Linked DNA regions of Homo sapiens: all the other regions are linked to region 1. Evidence: fine-mapped expression QTL. A gene starts in region 1. Each other region holds a variant in brackets. All regions are shown on one strand. Distances are between the middles of the regions. Region 1 holds the start of AGTPBP1 (ATP/GTP binding carboxypeptidase 1). Region 2 overlaps AGTPBP1 (ATP/GTP binding carboxypeptidase 1). Region 3 has its middle 22 kb from the start of AGTPBP1.

Region 1 (10,436 bases):
GATACTAGCATGAGGATAGACATATAGACCTATGGAATAGAACTGAGAGTTTAGTAACCATATATCTGTGGCCAGTTGATTTTTTAAAAATAAAAATTGGGGCCAAGCATGGTGGCTCAGGCCTGTAATCCCAATACTTTGGGAGGCCAAGACCAGAGGATCACTTGAAGCCAGGAGTTCAAGATCAGCCTGGGAAATATAGCAAGACACTGTCTATAAAAAGTAGAAAAAAAAAATTAGCCAGGTGTGGTGGTATGCGTCTGTCGTCCCAGCTGCTTAGGAGGCTAAGGCAGGGGGATCACTTGAGCCCAGGAATTGGAGGCTGCAGTGGGCTATGATCATGCCACCGCACTTCCAGAGTGAGACCCTGTCTCAAAAAAAACAAAATTGTACATATGTAAGGTATACAACATGATGTTTTGATATACATAGTGAAATGATTACTATAGTCAAGCTAACATATTTATCTCTTCACATAGTTAGCATTTTGGTTTTTTTTTTGTGGTAAGAGTACCTGAAATCCACTCTCTTAGCAAATTTCCAGTATACAATAGTCATCATGCTGTACACTAAGTCTCTACTCAATTTTGCTTCTCTCTCTCTCTCCCCCCACTCTTTCTTTTTGTTAGAGGCAGAATCTTGCTCTGTTGCCCAGTCTGGTGTGCAGTGGTGTGATTACGGTTTACTGTAGCCTTGAACTCCTGGGCTCAAGCTATCCTCCTGCCTCAGCCTCCCAAGTAGCTAGGACTACAGGCATGCACCACCACGCTCAGGTAATTTTAATTTTAATTTTTGTAGAGATGTGGGGGGTCTCACTATGTTGTCCAGGCTGGTCTTGAACTCCTGGCTCCAATGATATGCCTATGCTGTCTGGGGTATATACCCTGTGGTTTGTTTTGTGTGCCAAGAAAGAATTTAGGACACAGACACATGTGGGTGGGTTAAGTAGTGGAAAGTTGATAGTTAGAAGAAAGGAGAGAGGCAGCTTTTTGGGAAAGAGAGATGTCCACAGAGGGGGTGAGGCAGTGGATCGCAGCAGATTTTATAGGCAGCAGGTTGGAGAAGGCGGTGTCTGATTTATATGGGGCTCACAGATTGGTTCCATCAGGTATGACGTCTATATACTGTGTGGGGGCAGGGGGAAAAGGAAGGCTGGTCGCCCCACCCTAATCTTATTCTGCAAATGGGCTTTCCTGTTGATCTGCACCATGTTGTCTGCTTCTTACTGTAAACGTGGCTGACAAAGAGAAGGGAAGTGGAGCTGCCATCCTGAACATGTCTAGCCCCGAGTTTCTGCTGGCATTCACCAGTGCAAGCTCCCAGATTGCTTGTCTATGTCTGGAGCTCGAGCTTACAGGCTGCTCTTTGTTAGAAAATGATTTGGGGCTGCTTTTCATTAAAGAGAAAAGCCTTACCAAAGGCTGCCATACTCTCACTGTCTGCCTAAGTGATTTCTTCTTAACTCCTATATCACCAATTGATCCTCCTGCTTTGGCCTCCCAAAATGCTGGGATTACAGGCATGAGCCACCACACCTGGCCTTTAAGTTCAATTTTTCTGACCCCGAATTATATATCATTCACAGTTTACCATGGAAACCATTTGCCACTGTAAAAGATTTTGCATCAGAACCATTCAATGTGTGAAATCCCAGATTGCTTCCCTCCATTTCCCAGTTTTGCCGCATTCATTTAGATTCAGCTCTGGTCGTTTGTACTACATTCTGTTCTGTGGTCTATTTGTGGTAAACCTTTTAGTTTGACACAAGGCAGTGGTTAGGTATTTTGTTGAGCATTATCATTTGCTTAATTCCTCAGAAGATCTCAAGAGGACTGTCTGGTACATAAGAGGTGCTCAATAAATGGTTGATTGTTGAATAGTTATAACAATCAATCCTCTAACTCCAGAGGACCAGCTATGTTTCAGAAACCTCATGATCAATCATGCTCTCCTAACATTTATGTTCTAGATGGAAATTGCTGTAGACTTTTTGAGAGGTCCATGGCTGTTCTAAGCCTTATGACTATAGAGTTTTGTAATACAGTGTGTTGCATTTTGTACGTTACCTTATTAAAAGCATGGAGATAAGGTGATCCGCAGAAGAGGAGAAAGAGATAGCTGGGCTCCAATGTTCACCTCTCTCTCCCCATGACTAGTCCAAAAATGAAACAGGAAAACATTTACTGAGTACCTACAAGGCTGGACTGAATAGAGGAATCCAAGTTAAATGAATTCCATTATATAGTCCAACTCTGATCTATATCAGCCATTCACATTTAGTTTTATATATCATAATAAGGTTTATTGAAGAAGCTGTGGAAAGAGTGACCAATAGAAATTAGCTCTGTGTTTTGTATGGTTCAAAGTAGAGAGATAAAAGTATGATTTCATGAATCACATTGAAAGGCGTCAGCCAGCTTGCTTTAGGCAGATAGTAAGCAAAGGGTCCCCAGAGAAGCTCCCACCCATGTTTCGTACAGATAAGGGAACTTACACAGGGGTCTTGCCTAAACATGCCTACAGTGGACTAAGGGCCCGCGTGCACACTGGGGGAATGGGGTGGAGCCACCAGGAATTTGCGCCTTACACAAATAGGGAACCTGGCCCCATCAGCTTGCATGTAAAAGCCCCTGCATTCAACTGTGAAGCGGGCAACTGGGAACCTGCTTTCAGGATCCTTCTCTTTGCTGAGAGCTTTCCTTTTGCTTAACAAATTCTACTTCACTCACTCTTCAAGTGTCCGTGTACCTGATTTTTCCTGGTCTTGAGACAAGAACCTGGATCTAGCTGAGCTAAGGAGGAAACAATCCTGGATCAACATGGTTTATTGCCATGTGAAGATAATTTATTTTCTTAGGTTCACAATGTATAGAGGCAGAGAATTAAGAGAATAATTTCACAGGGAATACACTCCATAGATGATGTTTATTAACTACATAGTGAGTGAGTTCCAAAACTATTAAAACCTAGTTGTTCAATTAAGATTGAAGCAGACCTCTGTGGAAAGTAAAGTCTGATTAAGGATTGAGGTGGGTGTGGTATTAATGCCTGTAATCTCAGCATTTTGGGAGGCTAAGGCAGGAGGACTGCTGAGCCCAGGAGTTTGAGACCAGCCTGGGTGACTTAGGGAGACCCCGACTCTACAAAAACAATTAAAAAAATTAGCCAGGTGTGGTGACGTGTGCCTGTAGTCCCAGATACTCAGTGGGAGGCTGAGGTAGTACGATTCATTAAGCCTGGGAGGTCAAGGCTGCAGTGAGCCATGATTGCACTACTGTATTACAGCCTTGGCAACAGAGTGAGAGTCTTGTCTCAAAAAAAAAAAAAAAAGAAAGAAAAAGAAAAAGAAAAAGAAAAACAACTGAGGTGTACCTTTACCTTTTGGAGGCTGAGGTTCTCGGGAGAGATGGTGTCCAACATACAGGAGATCGGTGAGGATATGCAAGGTCCCACGATGCTAGAGGGCTGTGCCAGTGTTGGTGGACAGGCTTCAAAGCTTAAAGGCTAACAGGGTGTGGCCCTGTTGCAGCCTGAGCTGGTAGCGTTCAGGGAAGTGGCTGACAGAGCACGCGATCTGCCACCCGCTGAGCTCTCAAAGTATCTTGCAAATTCTTGAGTTTATATGTATTTCGAAATCCTGTAGTTGAGGTCAGTAACATATATATGGTGTTTGATAAGGTGTAACGTCACATTAGCTAGGAGAGGTGAAGTTTATTTCAACTTCATACACGTGGGATCTGATGAAGAGTGATGTCACATTCCCAGGGGGTGGGGGAGTAGCTCTAAGTTCTTAATTACCGCAAAACATAAATCACTCACTCTTGTGGCAAACTATGTGATTGGAATCATTTCAAAGCTATGTAATGCTGCTATTTATCTTGTGTGGGTTAATCTCCTGGGTCTGTGTTGTGGTCATCAAACTATGCTAACAGTGCTTGTGAAAGTGGGATTCAAATTCCACAAACACACACATCCACATAATATCTTCCTATATTGCAGGTTGACTCATTTAGAAACATGTTCTTTAAGAAAAGTTTCAGGTATATTACATACATATTTAGCATTATTGTAAAATTATTACATTATTATTGGGTATTTTCAGATAATACGTTTCTGATTGGGTGGTTTGGGGTGGTGGTTGTTTCAAAATTATTTTAAATACCGTAACCTATCTTTTAGTGCTCACGATGAGGGAAACTACGATGTTTATAAAATGGCAGTTTCTTGTTCATCTGAATAAAGACATCTACCAAGGGCAAACTGTAAGAAGCACTGTGGTGTACCTTGGGTTACTTTTTGAATTGCTTTCACACCTGCTTAATTTTATTTGAACAAGATCATAAAACAAAACAAAAATCTCACAGTTCTCAATGCATTCCCTTATCTAGTTGTGATATTACATTCCTTACCATAAACAGTAGCAAACATGTTCTTGTGCAACGTGAAAAAGTAAATGATGTCAGTATTTATTTGCAATACATTGCAGTACACTGAAGTACAGTCAAAACAGAAGGGGGTGTATTAGTAATTTCTCTGACACATTACTTTGGCTCAGATAAAACATTCCGCCTTTGCCTTCAGTAGCCAACTTAGCATTACCGTTTTGATTATATGCAGGCACTTTTTCAAAAAACAGTAAATCAGCATGCTATTTTGTTCGCTGCAGCACTAGGCATCTAATTTACTGAGATTTGGCCACAAGGTGCAATCCTGTTGTTTTCTGGGAGCCCGATTGTAGTAACAGCATGTCCCTTCCAGCCTCTTATTATGGACCCTCCTTGAGGTCAGGAAAGGTCTAAGCTTTACCGCAGTCCCCAGCGTTTGATGCGACCCCGGGATCACGTGGGGAGCTTTAAGAACCCTTCCTAAGAAAGTGACTGATTGATGGCGGGGGAGGGGGTGGGCGCGGGCTTAGTTCCGGGAAAAGGCTGGGGCCCTCGTTGGGAGTGTACAGAAAGATGACTTGAAGAACGTGGGGAGTCGCTCGCAGTTCGGTACGGAGGGGCGGTGGCCGGGGCTGCTGGGTACAAGGGACCGGCAGCGCGCGGAACACCCGCCCCTAATTCCCGCTCCCGTGCGCGCTCCGCCCCCACGCGCGCGCTCCCTCCCGTCAGGCGCGCAGAGAGGCGGGGCGCAGCGCGCACGGAGGTAACAAGGGACGCGGCGGGAAGAGGGCGTGCGCTCCGCCCCGCCCCTTTCGCGGCCTCGCACGCCCCGCCCCCACTCCCTGCGCGTGCTGGGAGCCGGCTGGCAAGGCGTGCGGTGGGCGGGGCGCCGCGCTGACGTTGCCCGGGATGCGGACAGGTTCCGCCGCCTCCAGCGCCGCCGCCGCAGCTGCCGCCGCCGCCGCCTCCGCCTCGCCTGCCACCGGGGTTTGTATGAAAACACCGGGCGGCGGGCGGCGAGGGATCCGCCGTGATCCAGGTGCTGAGCCGGGTGCTGCGGCTCTGCGCGGTCCCCGCCAGCGCCCCATCCTGAGCCGGTGAGCGCCCTGCTGCAGTCCTCATGTCCCGGCCGGCCGTCCCTCTGCTCTCCCCGGGCCGCGGGAGATGCGAGCGACGGCGCCCGGGGGTAGGAGGGGCGACCCCGGATCCCTGCGCCCCTTACCTGACGGGTTGTGTAACGCATGTTACACATGTGACGCGTGAGGGGAACGCACTCGGTCTTGAGGGAAAGCCCTGACGGGGTGGGGCTTTGACTGGGTCTGGAAAACGCCTTCCCCAGTCCCCGGACCCTCGGTGGATCCCCGTCCCAGACCTTGCGGAGGGTATCGGGCGCGGTCTCTGGGCGGAGGCCGCCCTTTCTGCTCAGCCCTTTCTCTCGGGCCCGAGCTCGCGGCGCCGCGGGGAGTCCAGCCGAGGGGCTGCAGGGCCGGGGGCGGGCGCGCCCAGCCCCGCTCTCCCCCGCCCCAGTGGTAGCGGGCCGCTGAATCGCGGGCCCCTGTGCTTCGAGAATTCTAGCGTTCCCGACTGAGCGCCAGCAAGGTGGGATTTGCTGTGACATCGGCGATGGGCACGTTTGCTTCCTCTCGCTGGGTGGTTTGAGCTGAAGTGTGTCTTCTGTTTACAACTTGTCGCCTTGAGCGTTTGGTTTGAACCTGAATCAGATCACCCTGGATGACAGTGCAGAGTTTCCTTAGTGTCTTCCTTCCTGAATTGCGGGTTCTCAATTGCAAGTGTTCAAGGACTGTTGTAACCCAAAGGCTTGCTCGACTCTACCGTTGTTTTACCCCTTGTGCGGTATAAACCTCTTACGAGCACCAGGGCAATTGGAGTTGGTTGGGTTCCTTTCTTGGGCGTTTACTCATTGTAGAATGGAGTTTTCATGCATCATAGTGTAATCGATGTGAATGTTGATAATTTAAAGCCCATTTCCCGTTTTAACATAGCTTACTCAAGTGCCTGAAGATAGCGGAAATTTTCTTTGGCAGTATTAATTCTATGTGGGTTTTTTCCTTCAGGTGTTTAACATTGTAGTTGTGTTTAATTACAATGCATGACAATTTGTAGTTAGAAAGGACCTTAACAGTCTTCTTAATCGGTCATTTTCACTTACCTTTTATGTCCGTTTTTTAAGCTTTATGTAAATCAAATTATCCTTTGTGAACTTCTGAATTATTCTTATAAACTGGTTGTCTGAGAAAACCGGAAAGTTATTTTTGTAATTGTATTGTGGAATGTTTTTAGTTCAGTAGGCCAAAAAAGAAATGATTTATTTAAGGAACTTTAAATGGTGCTTATTTTAAAACATGTGCCAAATGTCAAAACCAAACAAAACTCTGAAAGATCTGTATTTCCTATGTAGAATTACTGCGAAATAATAAGTCGTGCCTTACCCACTGTTTCTCATCATGCAGGCAGAGTTCTAATATGACTTGCTCTTTTTCCCATTCCACTTCTCTTAAGTTAAATTCTATGGTGAAGTTACAGGTTCATTTTTAATGATCACAAAACTCTGCCTTGAATTGATTAATCACATAATTACAACTGCAGACTCACTCTGAACTCGGAAATGAAGTGGATAGGCTTAAAACTACCCTCGTATTTGGCCAACATTGCAAAGCATTTAAATCTATTAATTAAACTTTTGTAGAAGCAATTTTTATAAAGCTTTTCCGAATTGAGGCATTCTTCTCTTTAGAAAAGTCTGGCTAGGCTGCTATATAATAATGGTTTTACTTCCATTAGCAGAAGGAAAAGAGGTCCAACAGTTATGAAATTTTGTAATTTGTATTTTACTTTTTTTTTTTTTTTGAGACGGAGTCTCACTCTCTCGCCCAGGCTAGAGTGCCAGTGGTGCGATCTCGGCTCACTGCAACCTGCCCCTACCGGGTTCAAGCGATTCTCCCGCCTCAGCTTCTTGATTATAGGCGCGCGTCACCACGCCTAGCTAATTTTTGTGTTTTTAGTAGAGACGGGTTTCACCATGTTGGCCAGGCTGGTATCGAACTCCCAACCTCAGGTGATCCACTAGCCTCAGCTTCTTAAGGTGCAGGGATTACAGGCGTGAGCCACCAAGCTTGGCCTGAATTTTTTTTTTTTTTTTTTTGAGACGGAGTTTCGCTCTTGTCGCCCAGGCTGGAGTGCAGTGGCACGATCTTGGCTCACTACAGCCTCTGCCTCCCGGGTTCAAGCGATTCTCCTGCCTCAGCCTCCCGAATAGCTGGGATTACAGGAGCACACCACCACGCCCGGCTAAGTTTTTGTTTTTAGTAGAGACGGGGTTTCACCATGTTACCCAAGCTCGTCTTGAACTCCTGACCTCAGGTGGTCTGCCCACCTCGGCCTCCCAAAGTCCTGGGATTACAGGCGTCCGCCACCACGCCCGTCCTGGCCTGAATTTTTTTAAACCTCATCCAAAGTATTCATCTTCCCAAATCTGCTTTTCTTGCTTGAAGTCCCCCACTATCTGAAAGTTGAACAGTGCGTGAATAGCAATGGATGCACCTGTCAGAGGGCCATCTGCAAGATGGGAGCTTTCCTTAGGCAATGGGTTTCAGTATAAACAACATAAATTTTGTAGGGTGGGCACTGAATTTTAAACTTCAGATGTTATTGTTGATTACTGTGCCTGTGTACTATGGTGTAGTGGCTAAGGAGTTGGGCCTCAGAGCCAGATGGCTCGGTTTGGGTCCTGGCTTTGCTTTAGGCAAGTTATTTTTATTTTTATTTTTTTAAGACAAGTTATTTGTCCTTTTTGTACTTTAATTTTCTCAGCTCCAAAAATGACATAATATTAGTGTATACTCTTAAGATATTCTCAAATATTAAGTGATTAATACAAGTAAAGTGCTTAGCCCACAGTGCCTGGCATGTAGTAAGTGCCCAGTAAATATTGCTATTATTACCGTTGCTCTTCCTCAGTCTTCAAAGGGATCTAGTAAGCAGAAAAAGGACTTTTGGGGGATGGAGCAGTATTAGTGCAGATTAATTCCACTATGACCCATTTGCTCCTTTGGGGTTAAATGAGAGCTTAGTCTCACTGTCCTGCCTCCTGCCTTGGAAACATGTAAGTCAGTTTTAAATAGAACAGCTAGACCCTGAGCTGGGTGCCCTGGGATGCTACTGGAGAGCTGTTGATAAATCCGTTTGTCCCTTCTGACAGAACCTTGGATTGTCTCCCTCCTGTTGGTGATGGCTGCTATTTTAATCTTTTAATCATCTGTTTTTGAGTTTGTGATTGGGTGTTTCTTTGACTATAATGTGCCGCTATCAAAAATGTGATCTGTCAAAATATTGGTAGGTATGTACTTGTTTATTTGATCAGAATATTGTATGTTGTTTCCAGGGCACACAAAATCAATTTTTTTAAGCATTCTTTTTTATCTAAGCATTTTCTTTTTTATTGATATTATATAGTGTGAAATCAGTTTTGATTTGACATTGTGTTCATTTTCAGCTTTCATATAATTTTCCTAGGAACTTTTTTTTTCCCTCCAGTATGATTTTACATACTTGTTCTTGGTTTGCAGGGATCTAATATTAAAACTCTAAATGCTTTCAAACTTTTGGTTAGGACCCTTTTACATTGTTAAAAGTTGTTGAGGATCCCCAAAAAGCTTTTGTGAATTTATCTATGTTTACTGTATTGTAAATGAAAAGGGAAATATAAATTGTCAGTTCACTTAAAATGACAATTATAAACTCTTTACATGTTAATATAAACACCCTATTTTTAATGAAAACAACTTTTTTTTAAAACAAAAAATAAGGTAGTGAGAAAAGTGGCATTGTTTTACTTTTTTTGTAAATCTGTCTGGTTTAATGGAAACAGCTGGATTATCATATCTGCTCCTGCATCCAGTCTATTGCAATATGTTGTTTGGGTTGAAATACATATGGAGAAAATCCAGTCTCACATAGTTAATGGCTAAACAGGGTGGGGAGGCCGGGGAGGGAGCATTTTAATAGCCTTTTCCGATAATTGTGGACATTCTTGTTTGGTATTATATTAAAACTCAGTAAGTGGCAATTTCTTAAAGGTTAGATGCCGTGAGAAATCCAGTAAGTGGATTTTTGCATGCTCTAGTAAAACCCATTGGTTGGAACTTTGAATGGGTCTTATACTCATTCCTGAGATTGTAACATCATTCCTTGGTCATTTGTAAATATTGGTTCAGTGTTATGCAGATCTTCCAAATGTTGACATCTTTCATCATGCAATATTAAAGAAAGTTATGGTTGTTAATATCACCACCCATTTTGTTAGAGACAAATTATTGGGAAGCTGTTTAGGTCTTGACATGACAATGGTGGATATGAGTTTTCCAGAATTCGGATTTTTGCTTGAAAGCTCAAATTTTATCATTGGCAACAAATGTGACTTGTTTACTTAAAGTGACAAGCTCAGTTTATTCATTTCTGAGAAAACCTCTGCCAAAATATTCCAATTTGAGTAACCATAGTCTGTCAATCATTCTTTCAGTCACTTTCATTAAAAAAGAGGCTAGTTCAAGCTGTCAATTCAGTTACAGAAGCACTTTACTTTGAGACAGCCATCAACTATTGTAATTCAGTATGTAGCAGAAATGGTTCATGGAAAGTTCCCATTTTGTCACATAAAAAGGTGCATAAAAATTAATAATTTTTACTGTTTCAAGGACATTCTTAAGTGACATTGGCTTTTTCTTGTCTTTTTATTTTTTATTTTTTGAGATGGAGTCTTGCTCTGTCGCCCAGGCTGGAGTGCAGTGGTGCAATCTCTGCTCACTGCAAGCTCCGCTTACTGGCTTAACGCCATTCTCCTGCCTCAGCCTCCCGAGTAGCTGGGACTACAGGCGCCTACCACCACGCCTGGCTAATTTTTTGTAGTTTTAGTAGAAATGGGGTTTCACCGCGTTAGCCAGGATGGTCTTGATTTCCTGACCTTGTGATCCGCCTGTGTCCGCCTCCCAAAGTACTGGGATTAGAGGCGTGAGCCATGGCTGGCTTTTTCTT
Region 2 (10,436 bases), 26 kb after region 1:
GAGTACCCAGATTCATAAAGCAAGTCCTTAGAGACCAACAAAGAGACTTAGACTCCCACACAATAATAATGGGAGACTTTAACACCCCACTGTAAATATTAGATCAATGAGACAGAAGGTTAACAAGGATATCCAGGACTTGAACTCAGCTCTGGACCAAGTGGACCTAATAGACATCTACAGAACTCTCTATCCCAAATCAACGGAATATACATTCTTTTCAGCACCTCATTGCACTTATTTTAAAATTGACCACATAATTGGAAGTAAAACACTCCTCAGCAAATGCAGAAGAGCAGAAATCACAACAAACTATCTCTCAGACCACAGTGCAATCAAACTAGAACTCAGGATTAAGAAACTCACTCAAAACTGCACAACTACATGGAAACTGAACAACCTGCTCCTGAATGACTACTGGGTACATAACGGAATGAAGGCAGAGAGATAAAGACGTTCTTTGAAACCAATGAGAACAAAGACACAACGTACCAGAATCTCTGGGACACATTTAAAGCAGTGTGTAGAGAAAAATTTACAACACTAAATGCCCACAAGAGAAAGCAGGAAAGATCTAAAATCGACGCCCTAACATCACAATTAAAAGGACTAGAGAAGCAACAGCAAACAAATTGAAAAGCTAGCAGAAGGCAAGAAATAACTAAGATTAGAGCAGAACTGAAGGAGAGAGAGAGAGACACAAAAAATCCCTTAAAAAAATCAATGAATCCAGGAGCTGGTTTTTTGAAAAAAATCAACAAAATAGACCACTAGCAAGACTAATAAGGAAGAAATGAGAGAAGAATCAAATAGATGCAATAACAAATGATAAAGGGGATATCACCACTGATACCACAGAAATACAAGCTACCATCAGAGAATACTATAAATAGTTCTATGCAAATAAACTAGAAAATCTAGAAGAAATGGATAAATTCCTGGACACATACACCCTCCCAAGACTAAACCAGGAAGAAGTTGAATCTCTGAATAGACCAATAACAGGTTCTGAAATTGAGGCAACAATTAATGGCCTACCAACTAAAAAAAATCCGGGACCAGACGGATTCACAGCCAAATTCTACCAGAGGTACAAAGAGGAGCTGGTACCATTCCTTCTGAAACTGTTCCAATCAATAGAAAAAGAGGGAATCCTCCCTAACTCATTTTATGAGGCCAGCGTCATCCTGATACTAAAGGCTGGCAGAGACACAACAATAAAAGAGAATTTTAGACCAATATCCCTGATGAACATCGATGCAAAAATCCTCAATAAAATACTGGCAAACTGAATCCAGCAGCACAAGAAAAAGCTTATCCACCACAATCAAGTTGGCTTCATCCCTGGGATGCAAGGCTGGTTCAACATACGCAAATCAATAAACATAATCCATCACATAAACAGAACCAATGACAAAAACCACATGATTATCTCAATAGATGTAGAAAAGGCCTTTGACAAAATTCAACAGCCTTTCATGTTACAAACTGTCAATAAACTAGGTATTGATGGAATGTATCTCAAAATAATAAGAGCTATTTATGACAGACCCACAGCCAATATCATACTGGATGGGCAAAAACTGGAAGCATTCCCTTTGAAAACTGGCACAAGACAAGGATGCCCTCTCTCACCACTCCTATTCAACATAGTGTTGAAAGTTCTGGCCAGGGCAATCAGGCAAGAGAAAGAAATAGTGGGTATTCAGTTAGGAAAAGAGGAAGTCAAATTGCCCCTGTTTGCAGATGACATGATTGTATATTTAGAAAACCCCATTGTCTGAGCCCCTAATCTCTTTAAGCTGATAAGCAACTTCAGCAAAGTCTCAGGATACAAAATCAGTGTGCAAAAATCACAAGCATTCCTATACACCAATTACAGACAGAGCCAAATCATGAGTGACCTCCCATTCACAATTGCTTCAAAGAGAATAAAATACCTAGGAATCCAACATACAAGGGTTGTGAAGGACCTCTTCAAGGAGAACTACAAACCACTGCTCAACAACATAAAAGAGGACAAAAACAAATGGAAGAACATTCCATGCTTATGGATAGGAAGAATCAATATTGTGAAAATGGCCATACTGCCCAAGGTAATTTATAGATTCAGTGCCATCCCCATCAAGCTACCGATGACTTTCTTCACAGAATTGGAAAAAACTACTCTAAAGTTCATATGGAACCAAAAAGCCCGCATAGCCAAGACAATCCTAAGCCAAAAGAACAAAGCTGGAGGCATCACACTACCTGACTTCAAACTATACTGCAAGGCTACAGTAACTAAAACAGCATGGTACTGGTACCAAAACAGGGATATAGACCAATGGAACAGAACAGAGGCCTCAGATATAACACCATACATCTGCAACCATCTGATCTTTGACAAACCTGACAAAAACAAGCAATGGGGAAAGGATTCCCTATTTAATAAATGGTGTTGGGAAAACTGGCGAGCCATATGTAGAAAGCTGAAACTGGATCCCTTCCTTACCCCTTATACAAAAATTAACTCACGATGGTTTAAAGACTTAAGTGTAAGACCTAAAACCATAAAAACCTAGAAGAAAACCTAGTCAATACCATTGAGGACATAGGCATGGGCAAACATTTCATGACTAAAACACCAAAAGCAATGGCAACAAAAGCCAAAATTGACAAATGGGATCTAATTAAACTAAAGAGCATCTGCACAGCAAAAGAAACTGTAATCAGAGTGAACAGGCAACCTACAGAATGGGAGAAAATTTTTGCAATCTACCTATCTGACAAAGGGCTAATATTCAGAATCTACAAAGAACTTAAACATATTTACCAGAAAAAACCAAACAACCCCATCAAAAAGTGGGCAAAGGATATGAACATATACTTCTCAAAAGAAGACATTTATCCAGTCAACAGACACATGAAAAAATGCTCGTTATCACTGGTCATCAGAGAAATGCAAATCAAAACCACAATGAGATACCATCTCATACCAGTTAGAATAGCGATCATTAAAAAGTCAGGAAACAACAGATACTGGAGAGGATGTGGAGAAATAGGAACACTTACACTGTTGGTGGGAGTGTAAATTAGTTCAACCATTGTGGAAGACAGTGTGGCAATTCCTCAAGGATCTAGAACTAGAACTAGAACCCAGTGATCCCATTACTGGGTATATACTCAGAGTATAAATCATGCTGCTATAAAGACACATGCATACGTATGTTTATTATGGCACCATTCACAATAGCAAAGACTTGGAACCAACCCATATGTCTATCAGTGATAGACTGGATTAAGAAAATGTGGCACAGGTACACCATGGAATACTATGCAGCCATAAAAAATGATGAGTTCATGTCCTTTGCAGGGACGTGGATGAAGCTGGAAACCATCATTCTCAGCAAACTATCACAAGGACAGAAAACCAAACACTGCATGTTCTCATTCATAAGTGGGAGTTGAACAATGAGAACACATGGACACAGGGCGGGGAACATCACACTCCACGGCCTGTTAGGGGGTGGGGGGCTGTGGGAGGGATAGCATTAGGAGAAATACCTAATGTAAATGACGAGTTGATGGGTGTGGCAAACCAACATGGCAATGTATACCTATGGAACAAACCTGCACGTTGTGCACATGTACCCTAGAACTTAAAGTATATTAAAAAAAAAAAAAAAAGGATACTCATCCCATTCATGAAGCCTCCACCCTTATGACCTAATTATCTCCAAAAGGCCCTAACTTCTCATATTGTCACTTGGGGGTTAGCTTTTCAACATAAGGATTTTGGGAGGCACACGAACATTCAGACCATAGCAAAAATGTTCAGTTATTTTTATTTTATTTATTTTTTGAGACAGCGTCTTGCTCTGTCACCCAGGCTGAAGCGCAGTGGTGTGAACACAGCTCACTGCAGCATTAACCTCCCGTGCTCAAGTGGTTGTCACACCTCAGTTTCCTGAGTAGCTGGGACTACGGGTGTATGCCACCATACCTAGTTAATTTTTTTATTTTTTAGAGAAGGGCTCTTGCTATATTGCCCAGGCTGGTCTTGAACTCCTGGGCTCAAGCAGTCCTCCCACCTGGGCCTCCCAAAGTGTTGGGATTGCAGGCGTGAGTCACTGCACCCAGCCTGTTCAGTTATTTTTGAATCATCATGTTTTAGAAGGCAGTAAGTGCTTTGGAAGAAGACAAAGTAGATTCCGGCAAGGGCAATGGGTATGCTAGGGTCTGGAGGTAGTTTGCAATATTAAATAGGTTGGTTGGGATGGGTTGTATTGAAAAGGTGATACTTGAGCAATGGAAGTGGTGGAGTTAGTTATTGGGATATCTGGCAGAAGCACATTCCAGGCAAAAGAAACAGCTTATGCAAAGGCACTAAAGTGAGAGCCTGGCATGTTGGAGGAAAACATGGAGGCCCAGCCAGTGCATCCAGAGCAGAGTGACTGAGAAAAGTTGTAGGTAGGATATGAAGACAGGGAGGTAAGGACTGGGGGTATTCCTCTAGGGTCTTTTATGTCATTGAAATTGGCAGCCGCACAGGGCTTTGAGCAGAGTAGTGACAAAAATCTACTTAAGGTGTTTTTTCCTTCTTCTGTCCCCCAGTGTATTAAAAGGATCACTAAGCATGTTGTGTTGAGAATAGACTGTAGGGGGCATCAGAGGTAGAAGGGAGACTAGTGACATTGTTTACTTGACCGTGGTAGATGTGGTAAAGTGATCAGATTCTGGATATATTTTAAAAGTAGAATTATCAAGACTTTCTGATGTATTGGATGTGGGACAGGAGACAAGGATGAAGCTAAGGTTTTGAATTGAGCAACTGGAGGCATAGAATTGTCTTTAACTTAGATGGGAAAGCCAGAGTAGAGCACACTTGGAAGGGAAGGTCAGATCCGTTTTGCATATGTCGAGTTGGTAATATTATTAGAGATTCAAGTGGAAATGTTGAGTAATTACAAGACTAGATGAGATCACCAAGGAAGAGACTGTAGTTAGAAGAGGACAAGAAAGGACTAAGCCCTGGGCATTCCGTTAAAGGAAACTTAGAAGTGGTCAGTGAGGTTGGGAGAAAGCAAAGTATATAGCCAAATGAAGAAAGCATTTCCAAGAAGAGGATGTGGTCAGCTGTATCAAATGCTGCTGATAGGACAAATAAGATGAGGACTGAGAATTGACAATTGGATTTAGTAACATGGGGATCATTAGTTGTTGATAAGAATGGTGTTGGTGGAGTGGGGTGGGGAAAGTCTCATTGGAATGTGTTTAAGAGAGGATTGGAAGGGAGGACTTGTTGACAGTGTGCATAAACAAGTCTTTGCTTTCAGAAGGAGAGAAATGGGACAGTAGCTGAATTGGGAGCGAGAAAGTTTTTTTCCTAAGACACAGAAATATCATGATTTTATGGTGATGAAAATGATTCAGTAAAGAGGAAAGAGGAGATTATACCTAAATTTCGAGCTCAGTTTTTATCACTTTTTTTCATACATTCTCAGTTCCTCTGCCCTCTTGCTTTATCACACTTGCTTGGCAAAGCCACAAACTTGGTGAAATGCAACACTTCTGCTTCTAGGTGCCTGCACTTTCTGTTACACCATATTGTAATCAACACAAGCTTT[C/T]GCAAGATTTTTCATTATGTTCTGGCTTCAGGCTTCAGTAATAAAAAGTGAACTGTAAGGGATACACTGGCCTACTTTAGGATAACAGGGTTGAGAACTGACCTTTTTCCTGGGGGACTCTTAAGCCTAGAAAGCAGAATTCTTTGAGGTTGTCTGTTCCTTTAGTGAAGATTATTTGCCAGGGGTTAGATGCTTGATACTGCTGAGCATGTTCCACAGTGGTAGGGCATGGAGATATGGAGGAGGTAAGAAGTTACTATTTGCAGTTCCAAAGTTTTAGTTAGCCCTGTTTTGTAGTCTTCCTCTGTCGTCCTTGTTTCTGAGTGCTAGGTTCCTAGTTTCCTGAGTTCTTCTTAGCATAATACCTGTTCCTTCTTCCCTCTTAGTTTTCCTTTTTGTCACTAGGTTTAAACATAACCAACCTTCCTTCTTTCCTCCCTCCCTTCTTCAGAATTCTTGTTTGCTTTATTTCTTTTTTTCTTTTTTTTTTTGAGACAGAGTCTCGCTCTGTCACCCGGGCTGGAGTGCAGTGGTGCGATCTCAGCTCACAGCAACCTCCGCCTCCCAGTTCAAGTGATTCTCCTGCCTCAGCCTCCTGAGTAGCTGGGATTACAGGCTTGCACCACCAGGCCAGGCTAATTTTTGTATTTTTGATAGAGATGGAGTTTCACCATGTTTACTAGGCTGGTCCTGAACTCCCAACCTCGGGTCATCCGCCCGCCTTGGCCTCCCGAAGTGCTGGGATTACAGGTGTGAGCTACTGTGCCCGGCCCTTTATTTTTGATAAGCTGCTATTATAAGCTCCTGTTAGAAGTTTTTTAGGCATTACACCACGTTGTCTTGATATTCTGATCATATATACACACATATATATTCATTTTTTCAAGAGATGTTTAACAGATATATACCATATATTGAATTTTTGCCATCAAATATTCTTAAATATGTTATCTTGCAGCATATCACTTTCAAGTTAAAATGCCAGAAACAATACCAATATCTATAATTATTTTAAGGAATGCTATATAATGACACATTAAGGTGTAGATTCTTTTGATTTGTAATTCTTAGAATGATAATAGCAAAAATGATGCAAAAAATCTTCAGTGTGAGATTATGATGAAGCTACATTTTACAATTGTCTTTTTCAACCATAATGAAAATGGTCTTGGTGTCTAGCTGCAGACAGATTTACTCATTCTAGAGCTGCAGGCAGATTTACTCCTTCTAGCTCATTACACACAGGATACATGACTGCATAGAAGGGCATATAAAACGTGGAAATGGCCTCAGCTTCATTCTTCATCTCTTCCATTGTTATCCTCATTCAAACACCAATTACAGTAGAAAAAGCAGTGCTAAAATGCACTTCATTCACTGCAGTATTCTCCTTTTTTGCGTGATTAAAGGATAAGGCACAAAACACACACTGGCAACTGAGGCACTGACTTCACTTCCCACCTATGGACCCTCTTCAGCTCCTGGATCTGTTCACTTTGGTAACGCCAGAGGACTTGAGAGGAACCAACTTTATTTCTTTACTTTTACTGTAATCTAGTCCCAAGAGTAAGAGGAGAGAAATGCCTGTGGTTTATTTTACTGTGAACTGCAAGTTCAAATCATTTCTTATCTGTTGAAATACAGTTGGCTATGATATTAGTGCTCACCATTATTCTTTTCAACTCTATCAACTCTAGTAAAATCCACAGGGAACTTTTCATGAGATGTGCTGTTAGTGTATTAATAGTTTCTTCTGTTTGTGGCAGCAACAGTGCTTTTGAAATCACGTAAGATTTTTTTCTCCCTGTGGATATATAGTGATTTTTACTTAATTTAGAAATAGAAAAAAGTTACTTTGATTTTGTAGTTGTGTCTTAAAAAAGAGTAAAAAAAATTACAATTTAAAATTTCTCATTGACTTTAAAAACAATTCATGTAATTTTTGTACACAATTCTAAATATTTCCTTTTCTTAGTTAAGGAAAATGAAAAAAAATTATGTATGTCGTGTTGAAAAGTTCTGTTATTGAAGACAAACATCCAGAATATCTTCTACTTCATCAGAGTATCTTCCAAATGTATTAAGTTAAACAATTTGAAGTTTGCCCTTTTTGTGTGTTTGTTGTCTCTTTAAATATGACATTACTAAATATTTCATAAGTATGTGATTAACTGGTTTTTTGTTTGTTTGTTTGTTTGTTTTTTTGAGATGGAGTTTCGCTCTTGTCGCCTAGGCTGGAGTACAATGGTACGATCTTGGCTCACTGCAACCTCCACCTCCCGGGTTCAAGTGATTCTCCTGTCTCAGCCTCCTGAGTAGCTGGGATTACAGGCACCTGCCACCACACCCAGCTAATTTTTGTATTTTTAGTAGAGATGGGGTTTCACCATGTTGGCCAGGCTGGTGTCAAACTCCTGTCCTCAGGTGATCCACCTGCCTTGGCCCCCCAAAGTGCTGGGATAACAGGCATGAGCCACCATGCCCAGCCATGATTAACTTTTTGAATTCACAGTAGTTATTCTACTTTTTGGTGATGCCAAAAAATTCTGCTACAGTAAGCATTGGTATTTAAAAGATATTTAGAGTATTTTAGGGTTAATAGTTGCAAAATAAACTTGAAGATTTATAAAAATTGTGTGAATCGAGATTTAAGGTTGTTTAAACATATATAATGTCTAAAAATGAAAACTATTGTTTGAGGGAAGATGTGCATAGAAGCTTTTACTAATTTGAAAATGTTCTTATATGGAAATAACACATATTGACTAGTATTTGACTACTGTGTGAATGGTGTACAGTAAGTGCACTAATCACAGGATGCTGTGATTGGTTTATGTATTTTAAGGAGGAGTATTAGAACAGAAAGCATAATTTGAACTGTCTCAAAAGATCTTAACATTAGGTTGCAAATGACATTATGTTAGGTTTCTGCGTTTTTGTAGCTCCGGATTTTGATAAGTTTCCTGGCTGATTATAGGTATTTTTATAGTCATACATTGCATTCTGAAGCGACCCAGTAGAAGCACATAGAACTCAAATGTTCTCTTTTTGTTTCCGGTGTTATCTTGTGTTGCCCATAATGAAAACTTTCCATTGTATGGCTTCTGTGATATCTAATATATAGAAAAAAGAGTTATAAGTTTTTAATATCATTAACATTTTTCTTTTAGATTATCTGCAATTATGAAATGAAGTAACTCAAGATGAGCAAGTTAAAAGTGATACCAGAAAAAAGGTACTGTAATTCTGAATATCAGTATGCATAAGTTACAGAAATAATGTATGACAGAATTACTTGAAACTCAATACTTGACAAAGTATTATTTGTGTTTAAGTATAATATGTTATATTTATGTAATTAAAAATGTTTATTAATGTTTAACTTTTCAGTTAAAATTGGAATCAGCAAACTATGACCACCTCCTGTTTTTGTGTGGCCTGTGAGCTCAGAATGGTTTTTACTTTTTTTTTTGAGACGGAATTTCACTCTCGTTGCCCAGGCTAGAGTGCAGTGGCACGATCTCGGCTCACTACAACCTCTGCCTCTGGGTTCAAGTGATTCTCCTGCCTCAGCCTCTGGAGTAGCTGGGATTACAGGCACCCACCACCACACCCGGCTGATTTTTTGTACTTTTAGTAGAGACGGGGTTTCACTATGTTGTCCAGGCTGGTCTCGAACTCCTGACCTCAGGTGATCCACCCGCCTTGGCCTCCCAAAGTGCTGGGATTATAGGTGTGAACCTCCATGCCCGGCCGGTTTTTACATTTTTAAATGGTTAAAAAAATAGTATTTTGTGATACATGAACATTATATGTAATTTGCATTTCAGCATCTATAAATAAAGTGTTTTTTTGGAACACAGCCATGCTAATTCATTTACATATTGTCTGTGGCCACTTTTCTATTAAAATGGTGAATTCGAGTAGTTATGACAGGGACTGCATGGCCCACAATGCCTAAAATATATACTATTTGGCCCTTTACAGAAAAAGTTTAGGCTGGGCGCAGTGGCTTACGCCTGTAATCTCAGCACTTTGGGAGGTCGAGGCGGGTGGGTCATCTGAGGTCAGGAGTTCGAGACCAGTCTGGCCAACATGGTGAAACCCTGTCTTTATAAAAAATACAAAAATTAGCCAGGTGTGGTGGTAGGCGCCTGTAGTCCCAGCTACTCTGGAGGCTGAGGCTGGAGAATCGCTTGAACCCGAGAGTCAGAGGTTGCAGTGAGCCCAGATCTCGCCACTGCACTCCAGCCTGGGCAACACAGTGAGACTCTGTCTCAAAAAAAAAAAAAAAAGAAAGAAAAAAGATAAAGTTTAACTGATTGCTGAGTTAAAGCACACTGTATCATCTCTGTTAAAGTTCTTAAATATCAAGAAATTGTCTTAATGTTGGTTTTATTTCTTTCAGTTGAAAGACAATTCTGATTGTATATTGAAATTGTCTTGGCTATACAGTGATGAGCAAATTGTGTAACTTTGTGAAGCCTCAGTTTTCTCATCTGAACAATTACTTTAATGATAATGCTGTTATTATAAGGCTGTGAAGATTAAATGGTATTTGGCTTGGTAATTGACAGTGTATTAATACTGGTAATGAAAGTTTCTGCTTTGTAGCAATGTTCTTATGTTTACGTGTATATAACTTTACATTCATTGGTATGCGTTAAATCTGTTATATAATGAATAGTATACACACTGTTTAGATAAGATTTATTCCTTAAATTGCTAGGTTTTGCAGTTATTAACATGTAATACATCATACCAAATTTGATTTTAGTCACGTACTTGTGTAATTTCTATAGGAAAGGAATTAGGCATTATTTGTAT
Region 3 (10,436 bases), 22 kb before region 1:
GCTAATTTTTGTATTTTTAGTTGAGAAGGGGTTTTGCAACATTGGCCAGGCTGGTCTTGGAACTCCTGACTTCAGGTGATCTCCCTGCCTCAGCCTCCCAAAGTGATGGGATTACAGGTGTGAGCCACCATGCCTGGCCAATAATGTGAATATTTCTGATCTACCTAAAGAAAAATGTTCACCAGCCATTCTATTTCTCTGTGCAATCACTAACCATATGGAATTTGATGGTTTGATAATTGCTCCATAAGGAATAAAATAATATTCACCTTTACAAGAAAAAACCCCTTAAATACTAAAATGTACTTAGGTGAACGAATAAGAGGAGCCACAAATAAAAGTGAATTATCCAATATAGAGTAAGTCCTTATCATCAATAGGTTCTTGGAAACTGTGACTTTAAGAGAAACAATACATAACGAAACAAATTTTTTTTCTTATTAACTTTGTAACAAAAGCAACTATGTTGAAGGAAAACAATGTAATTTGAGGACCTGATGTACATGGTGTCTCTTAAAGTCACAATTTCCAAGAACCTATCCACAGTGTTCAGTGAGGACTTTACTGTACTTGACTTTTGAATTTATACTGTGACTATATTTTATCAAAAACAAATGTGAAGAGTTTGCCTTTATACGTGGCTGAGGACAATTTCGTATAAATTCAGTTTCTATGGTTTTAGATCTAAGTTAAGGAAGTACTGAGATAATATAAGGTAGTGTGAATATAGAAACCCAAGGACAGCCCGCTCCAGTGAGGCTGCAGCATATCAGTGTTTGCAGTTCCCTCTAACTCAGCAATAGGTGTAGGTTGACAAGATACGTGGCAATGGGTAACTATCCTGGGATGAAAAATTTGCCACAATACAAACCACAGGTTATCAAGAGTTGACTCTGCTTTATGATAGAGCACTGCTTTTCAACTTTAATGTGTACCCAGGAGCTCACTAGAATTCAGATTCTGATCCAGCAGGTCCACTTGGGGCCTGAGGATCTGCATTTCTAACAAGCCTCCAAGTGATGCTGTTGCTGCTGGTCCAGAGACCAAGTAAAATGAAACAAAAAACTAACAACAACTTTTGAGCAAGCACTGCAGAGATTTCCCTATAAATTATATGTTCTCAGCAGGGTGCGGTGGCTCAAGGCCTGTAAACCCAGCACTTTGGGAGGCTGAGGTGGGTGGATCACTTGAGGTCAGGAGTTCGAGACCAGCCTGACCAACATGGCGAGACCTCGTCTCTACTAAAAATACAAAAATTAGGCTGGGCGCGGTGGCTTACGCCTGTAATCCCAGCACTTTGGGAGGCCGAGGTGGGTGGATCACGAGGTCAGGAGATCGAGACCATCTTGGCCAACATGGTGAAACCCCATCTCTACTAAAATACAAAAAACTAGCCAAGCATGATGGCGTGTGCCTGCAGTGCCAGCTACTCGAGTGGCTGAGGCAGGGAAATCGCTTGAACCAGGCAGGCGGAGGTTGTAGTGAGCTGAGATCGCGCCACTGCACTCCAGCCTGGTGACAGAGCAAGACTCAGTCTCAAAAAAAAAAAAAAAAAATTAGCTGGGCATGGTAGTGCACATCTGTAATCCCAGCTACTCAGGAGGCTGAGGCAGGAGAATTGCTTGAACCCAGGAGACGGAGGCAGTGAGCCGAGATCGCACCACTGCACTCCAGCCTGAGTGACAGACTGAGACTCCATCTCAAAAAAAAAAAAAAAAAAAAAAGTATGTTCTCATCATAAAATGAGAAATTAAAAGTTTAAAAGATTAGAGAAACATAATAGTTCTTATATTTTCCTCCCTACCTATTAAGCAACTACTCTGTATTATTAGAAATCTAAAGTTCAGGTATTCTTTAATTTTAGTTTCTGGATTTTACCAAAAAAAAAAAAAAAAGCGGTGTGACCTGTCTGTAGTAAATTGTTAGGTAATCTTCTATTAGTGTAACGATCTAAAATCTTTCTATCCATTTCCTTAAAGTAATAAAATTAGGAAAAATATTTTAATTTACTGTGGAAAGAGAAAATTATCCTAAACAAGTTTAAAGACATTAAGATAGCAAACCATTCCAACTAGATTTTATTGATACCTTGTGTCACATCAGAATCTCATGTTCTCGATCATCTGCTAGTGACAGATCTATTTGGAATATTAACCTTGGCTTTAAAATCGTGATAAGAGCAGAGCCTCACTTGAGAGGTACACTAAGAAGAACCAACCATGTGGAAGAAAGGTGCATAGAAGCTCATGTGAGTAAGTAGAACTCTACCAGTTGTAGGAGGCTCATCATTCCCTCAAACCCCAGTCCAGAATAGCCGCAAAATAGGTATCATGCACCATACTATATTTTCACCACAAATCTGTAAATAACGTTTTTTGTTATGGGATCCCACATGAAATAGAAACCTAAATGTTTCTTGATATTAATGGAACTCTACCCTACTGCAAACATAATTTGTTAATTCTCATCTCTGTGCCTTATTCAAAGATGTTCTGTCTAAAACGGACTTCTTTCTTGTATCTGCCAGTGCATATCATGTTTTTCATAATCTAGCTCAAGATTCTGATCTACTGAGGCTGCCTTGATGAATCTTCCCCCAAATGATCACTTCATTGCTTTGAATAAATAATGTAAGAGGTATAGCTGTAATACGTTATCCACAACTTGATTTTCAGTGTCCTTCAGAGTTTACAGTTTTCTTATATTTCTATCTGTTTTCCCAAATAGAGTATTAATTTCTCAAGGGAAACATAATACTTTGGGTTTTTTTTTTTTTGGCTTCTTCTATCTTCTATAGAGCTTAGTAATAGTCACAGGCAGGCAGAATTCCTTAAATATTTGAATTCTGCTGTATCTTAGGCTCTCATGTCTTCAAATCTATAACCCTTGGGCTCCAATTTAACACCTTGGGAGGACACCCTGGCTCTCTGTTCCTCTGCACAGCTACCCAGCTTAAGTTATAAAACGGCAACAGAGGGCTATAATGTTCCTTTCAACCGCCATTTAGCCCCCAATCAAGGATTGATTTGTAAGTCAATCCTTTCATCAATTCTCAATGAGCAACAATCTAATGTTATCCTTGCTCCTATTTCTTAACTAGCCCTCATAACTTCCTGTCACTTGCTCCAAACTAAAACACTACAAGATTCACCACTGTGTATGATTCTCAGCTATTCACCTTCTCTTAGCAATTTTCCCTTGGTTTGGTAATGATGAGACACCAACAATAAATATTTGCAGAGGAAGTTCAGATTCAAAAATTCATCTTTCTCTGATGAAGTAAGGTAAAGGTACCACTGCCAACTGACTGAAAATTTTGAAAAAAGACAAAGTCTGGGGCAATTTGACAGCCCATAAATGAATCATCTTCTACATAGTTTTAAAAAACTATAACTAAAACTATAGTTTTAAAAAAACTGTAACTAAAACTATAGTTTTAAAAAAACTGTAACTATAACTAAAAGGTCTTTTACTGGGATTGGAATTTTGTGCATCTATTTGGCTGGACATAGTATGGACATTGGGCCTTTTAAACCAAGGTTTCATGGAAAGAATTAACCCCTAATTCCTTAGGCATCTCTTGTATGTAATAAATTACCTAGTATCCTTCAAGAAATATATATAGAGAAAAGTCAGGTGCCCTCCAGTAGAGTCCCTCAAATCATTTTCTATGTTCTGTGATTTCAGACGAGAAACCCCAGCTGAGAAGGCAAATATACTCAAGGAAATTAATAGTTTCCAAATGCCTGGCAGTGCCAGGAAGAGGCCATGTCCATGGACCACTATGTAAGGATATCTCAGTCTCTAGTCAAGCGTGGTTTATGGTGCCAAATAAGTGCCAGGTGAACTCACTACATCTGACAAAATCTCAAGGAACCAAGTTTACCAGATAATATTTATGATTATGTGAAAAAGACTGAGGAAATCACTCAAGTGATCCATCATACAGCACCTCCAGTTCCAAAGAATACTGACTTACTTCAGGTGATAACACTCTACCATTTTTAAGTTTTTCATCTTAAAAATGTGTCTTCGTTTCTGGAGCTGATCCTTTTCTTTCTGGAGGACTTCAACTTGCTCTGAAATCTTTGTTTTCTCCTCAGCTGTACTGGTCTGGAGCTGCACATTCTTTTCAGAGAAGTCTTGTTCCATTAAGTTCAGGCGAGTTGATACTTTCAAACTATCTGTGTTTAAGGCCTAAAAGATACAACCCACCAGACACCCCGAAAACAGTTACTAGAAATCTAGACTGCATAAAAATTAGGAAAAACATAGAGAAAATTGCTAAATGAATATATTTTTAGTTTTTACATTATTGTTTTCTCCCATGGATTTTTTTGAGGGAGGGGGTATTCATTTTCTTTTTTTGTTTTTGACATGGAGTTTTGCTCTTGTTCCCCAGGCT[A/G]GAGTGCAATGGTGCAACCTCAGCTCACTGCAACCTTCGCTTCCCAGGTTCAAGCGATTCTCCTGCTTCAGCCTCCCTGGTTGCTGGGATTACAGGCGCTCATCACCATGTGCAGCTAATTTTTTGTATTTTTACTAGAGATGGGGTTTTATCATGTTGGCCAGGCTGGTCTCGAACTCCTGACCTCAGGTGATCCACCCGCCTCAGCCCCCCAAAGTTCTGAGATTACAGACGTGAGACACCCACCCGACCGGGGTGTTCATTTTCTAAAATCTTAAGTTGAATGCCTTTTTAAAAAAAAAAAGTCTATTTAAACTCTGAGTTTACTGCCAAGAATTGCCTTGACTAGGTTTTCAGAGGCAGTATTTTTCTTTTTTCTTATTTTCTAAATTGAACTTTTCTTTCTTGGCTTACATTCTACATTGTAGAATTATGTTACAATTTACTAGGGGTTGAGATGTGGTGTGTTTAAACATACGATTGGTTGGCTTAAACATATAATTTGTTTTTACTCGTATTTCATTCTGATCAGAAAATATGGCCAGATTTATGGAGATGTTCACTATGGTCAAATTTCAGGTAATTTGTAAAATACTTTTCACAGTAATTATTTGTATATACTACCATGAGGTTTATTATAGAGACACATACTATCATAAGGTTTATAATTTTAAAAAAGCATTCCCCTCCCCCAAGCTTTTAATTGAATCCTACTCCCAGACGGCCACCTTCAACCTTTTCAGTTGGTTCTTCTGGTGTTTATGTCCATGTTTCTAAATGGCATTATCAATTTTAGACATTGTCTACTGACTGTGTATTATGGGAGATAAGGATTTAGCACTCTTATACCTACTCTACTTCCCATCCTCCTCCATTCTCCCAATATAAGTTACATTATAGTTTTTAGTTAAATCAATATTCATTTTCATTATTATAACTTTGTTATTCATAGGTGAACTATCTAGTATGAAATGATCATGCTTCTGTTTTGATACAACTTTTTTTTGCACCTTATACTAATTCTTCTCCAACAGAACTATAAAATTCCTCAACACTTTTTCATTTGATCAAACTTATCAGGAAATCTTTTCAATCTATTCTTTTCTGGAAACATTTTGCCTGGAGCATCCATCCTCCTGCTCCACACTGGACCAGTTGTCCTGGGTCTTCCCTTTGGTATTTCCTGAGAATTTCCATGTTGGAGCACATTTTCAGAATCCTGAGTCTTCCTTTTTCATAGTTGGTGCCCTTATTTTTGTGGGGCACATTCTCTAGTAGTTTCTCTGGACAGGCTTGATGTGAGGGTTTTTTTTTGTTTGTTTTTTGTTTTTTTGCCTGAAAATGCTTATTCTAGCTTCACATTTGATTGAGAGTTTGGCTAAGAAGAAAATTATTTATTAGACTTAATTTTCCTCATGAGTTTAAAGATTGCTTCAGATCTTAAACTTCTAATGAGGAAAGCTGAGAAGTCCAATGCCATTCTGATTCTTGCAACTTACAAGTAGTCTTTTTTGTCTAGATGCTTTCAGGACCTTCTTTTTTCCTCAGTCAGTGTATCCAAACCTTCACAGTGATATGTTTTGGGTACTCATTTTGCTGGGCCCTTGATGGGCTATTTCTTTCTATATATATGTATAAACTTTATATACATAAACTTTATAAAGTTTATATATATATAAAGTTTTACATATATATAAAGTTTTATATATATAAAGTTTTATATATATATATATAACTTTAAGTTCTAGGGTACATGTGCACAATGTGCAGGTTTGTTACATATGTATACATGTGCCATGTTGGTGTGCTGCACCCATTAACTCGTCATTTACATTAGGTATATCTCCTAATGCTATCGCTGCCCCCTCCCCACACCCCACAACAGGCCCCAGTGTGTGATGTTCCCCTTCCTGTGTCCAAGTGTTCGCATTGTTCAATTCGCACCTATGAGTGAGAACATGCAGTGTTTGGATTTTTGTCCTTGCAATACTTTGCTGAGAATGATGGTTTCCAGCTTCATCCATGTCCCTACAAAGGACATGAACTCATCATTTTTTATGCCTGCATAGTATTCCATGGTGTATATGTACCACATTTTCTTAATCCAGTCTATCATTGTTGGACATTTGGGTTGGTTCCAAGTCTTTGCTATTGTGAATAGTGCCGCAATAAACATATGTGTGCATGTGTCTTTATAGCAGCATGATTTATAATCCTTTGGGTATATACCCAGTAATGGGATGGCTGGGTCAAATGGTATTTCTAGTTCTAGATCCTTGAGGAATCGCCACACTGTCTTCCACAATGGTTGAACTAGTTTACAGTCCCACCAACAGTGTAAAAGTGTTCCTATTTCTCCACATCCTCTCCAGCACCTGTTGTTTCCTGACTTTTTAATGATCGCCATTCTAACTGGTGTGAGATGGTATCTCATTGTGGTTTTGATTTGCATTTCTCTGACGACCAGTGATGATGAGCATTTTTTCATGTGTCTGTTGGCTGCATAAATGTCTTCTTTTGAGAAGCTTCTGTTCATATCCTTCACCCACTTGTTGATGGGGTTGTTTTTTTCTTGTAAATTTGTTTGAGTTCATTGTAGATTCTGGATATTAGCCCTTTGTCAGATGAGTAGATTGCAAAAATTTTCTCCCATTTTGTAGTTTGCCTGCTCACTCTGACGGTAGTTTCTTTTGCTGTGCAGAAGCTCTTTAGTTTAATTAGATCCCATTTGTCAATTTTGGCTTTTGTTGCCATTGCTTTTGGTGTTTTAGACATGAAGTCCTTGCCCATGCCTATGTTCTGAATGGTATTGCCTAGGTTTTCTTCTAGGGTTTTTATGGTTTTAGGTCTAACATTTAAGTCTTTAATCCAGCTGGAATTAATTTTTGTATAAGATGTAAGGAAGGGATCCAGTTTCAGCTTTCTACATATGGCTAGCCAGTTTTCCCAGCACCATTTGTTAAATAGAGAATCCTTTCCCCATTTCTCGTTTTTGTCAGGTTTGTCAAAGATCAGAGAGTTGTAGATGTGTGGTATTATTTCTGAGGGCTCTGCTCTGTTCCATTGGTCTATATCTCTGTTTTGGTACCAGTACCATGCTGTTTTGGTTACTGTAGCCTTGTAGTATAGTTTGAAGTCAGGTAGCGTGATGCCTCCAGCTTTGTTCTTTTGGCTTAGGATTGTCTTGGCAATGTGGGCTCTTTCTTGGTTCCACATGAACTTTAAAGTAGTTTTTTCCAATTCTGTGAAGAAAGTCATTGGTAGCTTGATGGGGATGGCATTGAATCTATAAATTACCTTGGGCAGTATGGCCATTTTCACAATATTGATTCTTCCTACCCATGAGTATGGAATGTTCTTCCATTTGTTTTTGTCCTCTTTTATGTTGCTGAGCAGTGGTCTGTAGTTCTCCTTGAAGAGGTCCTTCACATCCCTTCTAAGTTGGATTCCTAGGTATGGTATTTTATTCTCTTTGAAGCAATTGTGAATGGGAGTTCACTCATGATTTGGCTCTCTGTTTGTCTGTTATTGGTGTATAAGAATGCTTGTGATTTTTGCACACTGATTTTGTATCCTGAGACTTTGCTGAAGTTGCTTATCAGCTTAAGGAGATTTTGGGCTGAGACGATGGGGTTTTCTAGATATACAATCATGTCATCTGCAAACAGACAATTTGACTTCCTCTTTTCCTAACTGAATACCCTTTATTTCTTTCTCCTGCCTGATTGCCCTGGCCAGAACTTTCAACACTATGTTGAATAGGAGTGGTGAGAGAGGGCATCCCTGTCTTGTGCCAGTTTTCAAAGGGAATGCTTCCAGTTTTTGCCCATTCAGTACGATATTGGCTGTGGGTTTGTCATAAATAGCTCTTATTATTTTGAGATATGTCCCCTCAATACCTAATTTATTGAGAGTTTTTAGCATGAAGGGCTGTTGAATTTTGTCAAAGGCCTTTTCTGCATCTATTGAGACAATCATGTGGTTTTTGTCTTTGGTTCTGTTTATATGCTTGATTACATTTATTGATTTGCGTATGTTGAACCAGCCTTGCATCCCAGGGATGAAGCCCACATGATCATGGTGGATAAGCTTTTTGATGTGCTGCTGGATTTGGTTTGCCAATATTTTATTGAGGATTTTTGCATCGATGTTCATCAAGGATATTGGTCTAAAATTCTCTTTTTTTGTTGTGTCTCTGCCAGGCTTTGGTATCAGGATGATGCTGGCCTCATAAAATGAGTTAGGGAGGATTCCCTCTTTTTCTATTGATTGGAATAGTTTCAGAAGGAATGGTACCAGCTCCTCCTTGTACCTCTGGTAGAATTCGGCTGTGAATCCGTCTGATCCTGGACTTTTTTCGGTTGGTAAGCTACTAATTATTGCCTCAATTTCAGAGCCTGTCATTGGTCTATTCAGAGATTCAACTTCCTCCTGGTTTAGTCTTGGGAGGGTGTACGTGTCCAGGAATTTATCCATTTCTTCTAGATTTTCTAGTTTATTTGCGTAGAGGTGTTTATAGTATTCTCTGATGGTAGTTTGTATTTCTGTGGGATCGGTGGTGATATCCCCTTTATCATTTTTTATTGCATCTATTTGATTCTTCTCTCTTTTCTTCTTTATTAGTCTTGCCAGCGGTCTGTCAGTTTTGTTGATCTCAAAAAACCAGCTCCTTGATTCACTGATTTTTTGAAGGGTTTTCTGTGTCTCTATCTCCTTCAGTTCTGCTCTGATCTTAGTTATTTCTTGCCTTCTGCTAGCTTTTGAATGTGTTTGCTCTTGCTTCTCTAGTTCTTTTAATTGTGATGTTAGGCTGTTAATTTTAGATCTTTCCTGCTTTCTCTTGTGGGCATTTAGTGCTGTAAATTTCCCTCTACACACTGCTTTAAATGTGTCCCAGAGATTCTGGTATGTTGTGTCTTTGTTCTCGTTGGTTTCAAAGAACATCTTTATTTCTGCCTTCATTTCGTTATGTACCCAGTAGTCATTCAGGAGCAGGTTGTTCAGTTTCCATGTAGTTGAGCGGTTTTGAGTGAGTTTCTTAATCCTGAGTTCTAGTTTGATTGCACTGTGGTCTGAGAGACAGTTTGTTATAATTTCTGTTCTTTTACATTTGCTGAGGAGTGCTTTACTTCCAACTATGTGGTCAATTTTGGAATAAGTGTGATGTGGTGCTGAGAAGAATGTATATTGTGTTGATGTGGGGTGGAAAGTTCTGTAGATGTCTATTAGGTCTGCTTGGTGCAGAGCTGAGTTCAATTTCTGGATATCCTTGTTAAATTTCTGTCTCATGGATCTGTCTAATATTGACAGTGGGGTGTTAAAGTCTCCCATTATTATTGTGTGGGAGTCTAAGTCTCTTTGTAGGTCTCTAAGGACTTGCTTTATGAATCTGAGTGCCCCTGTATTGGGTGCATATACATTTAGGATAGTTAGCTCTTCTTGTTGAATTGATCCCTTTACCATTATGTAATGGCCTTCTTTATCTCTTTTGATCTTTGTTAGTTTAAAGTCTGTTTTATCAGAGACTAGGATTGCAACCCCTGCCTTTTTTTGTTTTCCATTTGCTTGGTATATCTTCCTCCATCCCTTTATTTTGAGCCTATGTGTGTCTCTGCACGTGAGAGGCCTAGAGTCTCACATTACTGGTGTTGAGAAAATTGTTTATATGATGTCTTTGATAATCTCCTCTTTTCTGTTTTCTCTGTTGTATCTTTCTGGAATTCCCATTACTTGGATCTTGGGCTTTCTGAATTTATCTGCCAATTAAAAATGTTTCGCTCCTACTTTCTATTAACTTGTATTTTTACTTACTTTTCAGAATATTTCCTCAACTTTATCCTCTGACCCTTTTTGTTGAGATGGAGTTTTGCTCTTGTCGCCCAGACTGGAGTGCAATGGCATGGTCTCGGCTCACTGCAACGTCTGCCTCTCAGGTTCAAGTGATTCTCCTGCCTCAGCTCCCAAGTACCTGGGATTACAGGTGCCCACAACCACGCCTGGCTAATTTTTGTATTTTTAGAAGAGACGGGGT

The links. PIP is the estimated chance that this variant, and not a neighbour inherited with it, causes the effect.
Region 2: its variant is fine-mapped to the expression of AGTPBP1 in whole blood (TOPMed, PIP above 0.99). The same link has a PIP of 0.9 or more in blood mononuclear cells and monocytes.
Region 3: its variant is fine-mapped to the expression of AGTPBP1 in whole blood (INTERVAL, PIP above 0.99).

What each region holds. Positions count from the first base shown.
Region 1 is chr9:85,736,821-85,747,256 of GRCh38, reverse strand. AGTPBP1 (ATP/GTP binding carboxypeptidase 1) reads left to right here and starts at 5,303. Exons shown (of 26, transcript NM_001330701.2): 1 at 5,303-5,482. RefSeq lists silencers at 4,980-5,579, 5,650-5,969 and an enhancer at 6,140-6,289.
Region 2 is chr9:85,710,910-85,721,345 of GRCh38, reverse strand. AGTPBP1 (ATP/GTP binding carboxypeptidase 1) reads left to right here. Exons shown (of 26, transcript NM_001330701.2): 2 at 8,780-8,844. The coding sequence starts at 8,813. Among named protein-coding and RNA genes, the nearest start is that of AGTPBP1, 26 kb to the left of the region's middle. The variant C/T (reference allele first, on the strand shown) is at 5,610.
Region 3 is chr9:85,758,469-85,768,904 of GRCh38, reverse strand. It overlaps a transcript of AGTPBP1 not described here and the pseudogene LOC100419824. Among named protein-coding and RNA genes, the nearest start is that of AGTPBP1, 22 kb to the right of the region's middle. The variant A/G (reference allele first, on the strand shown) is at 4,406.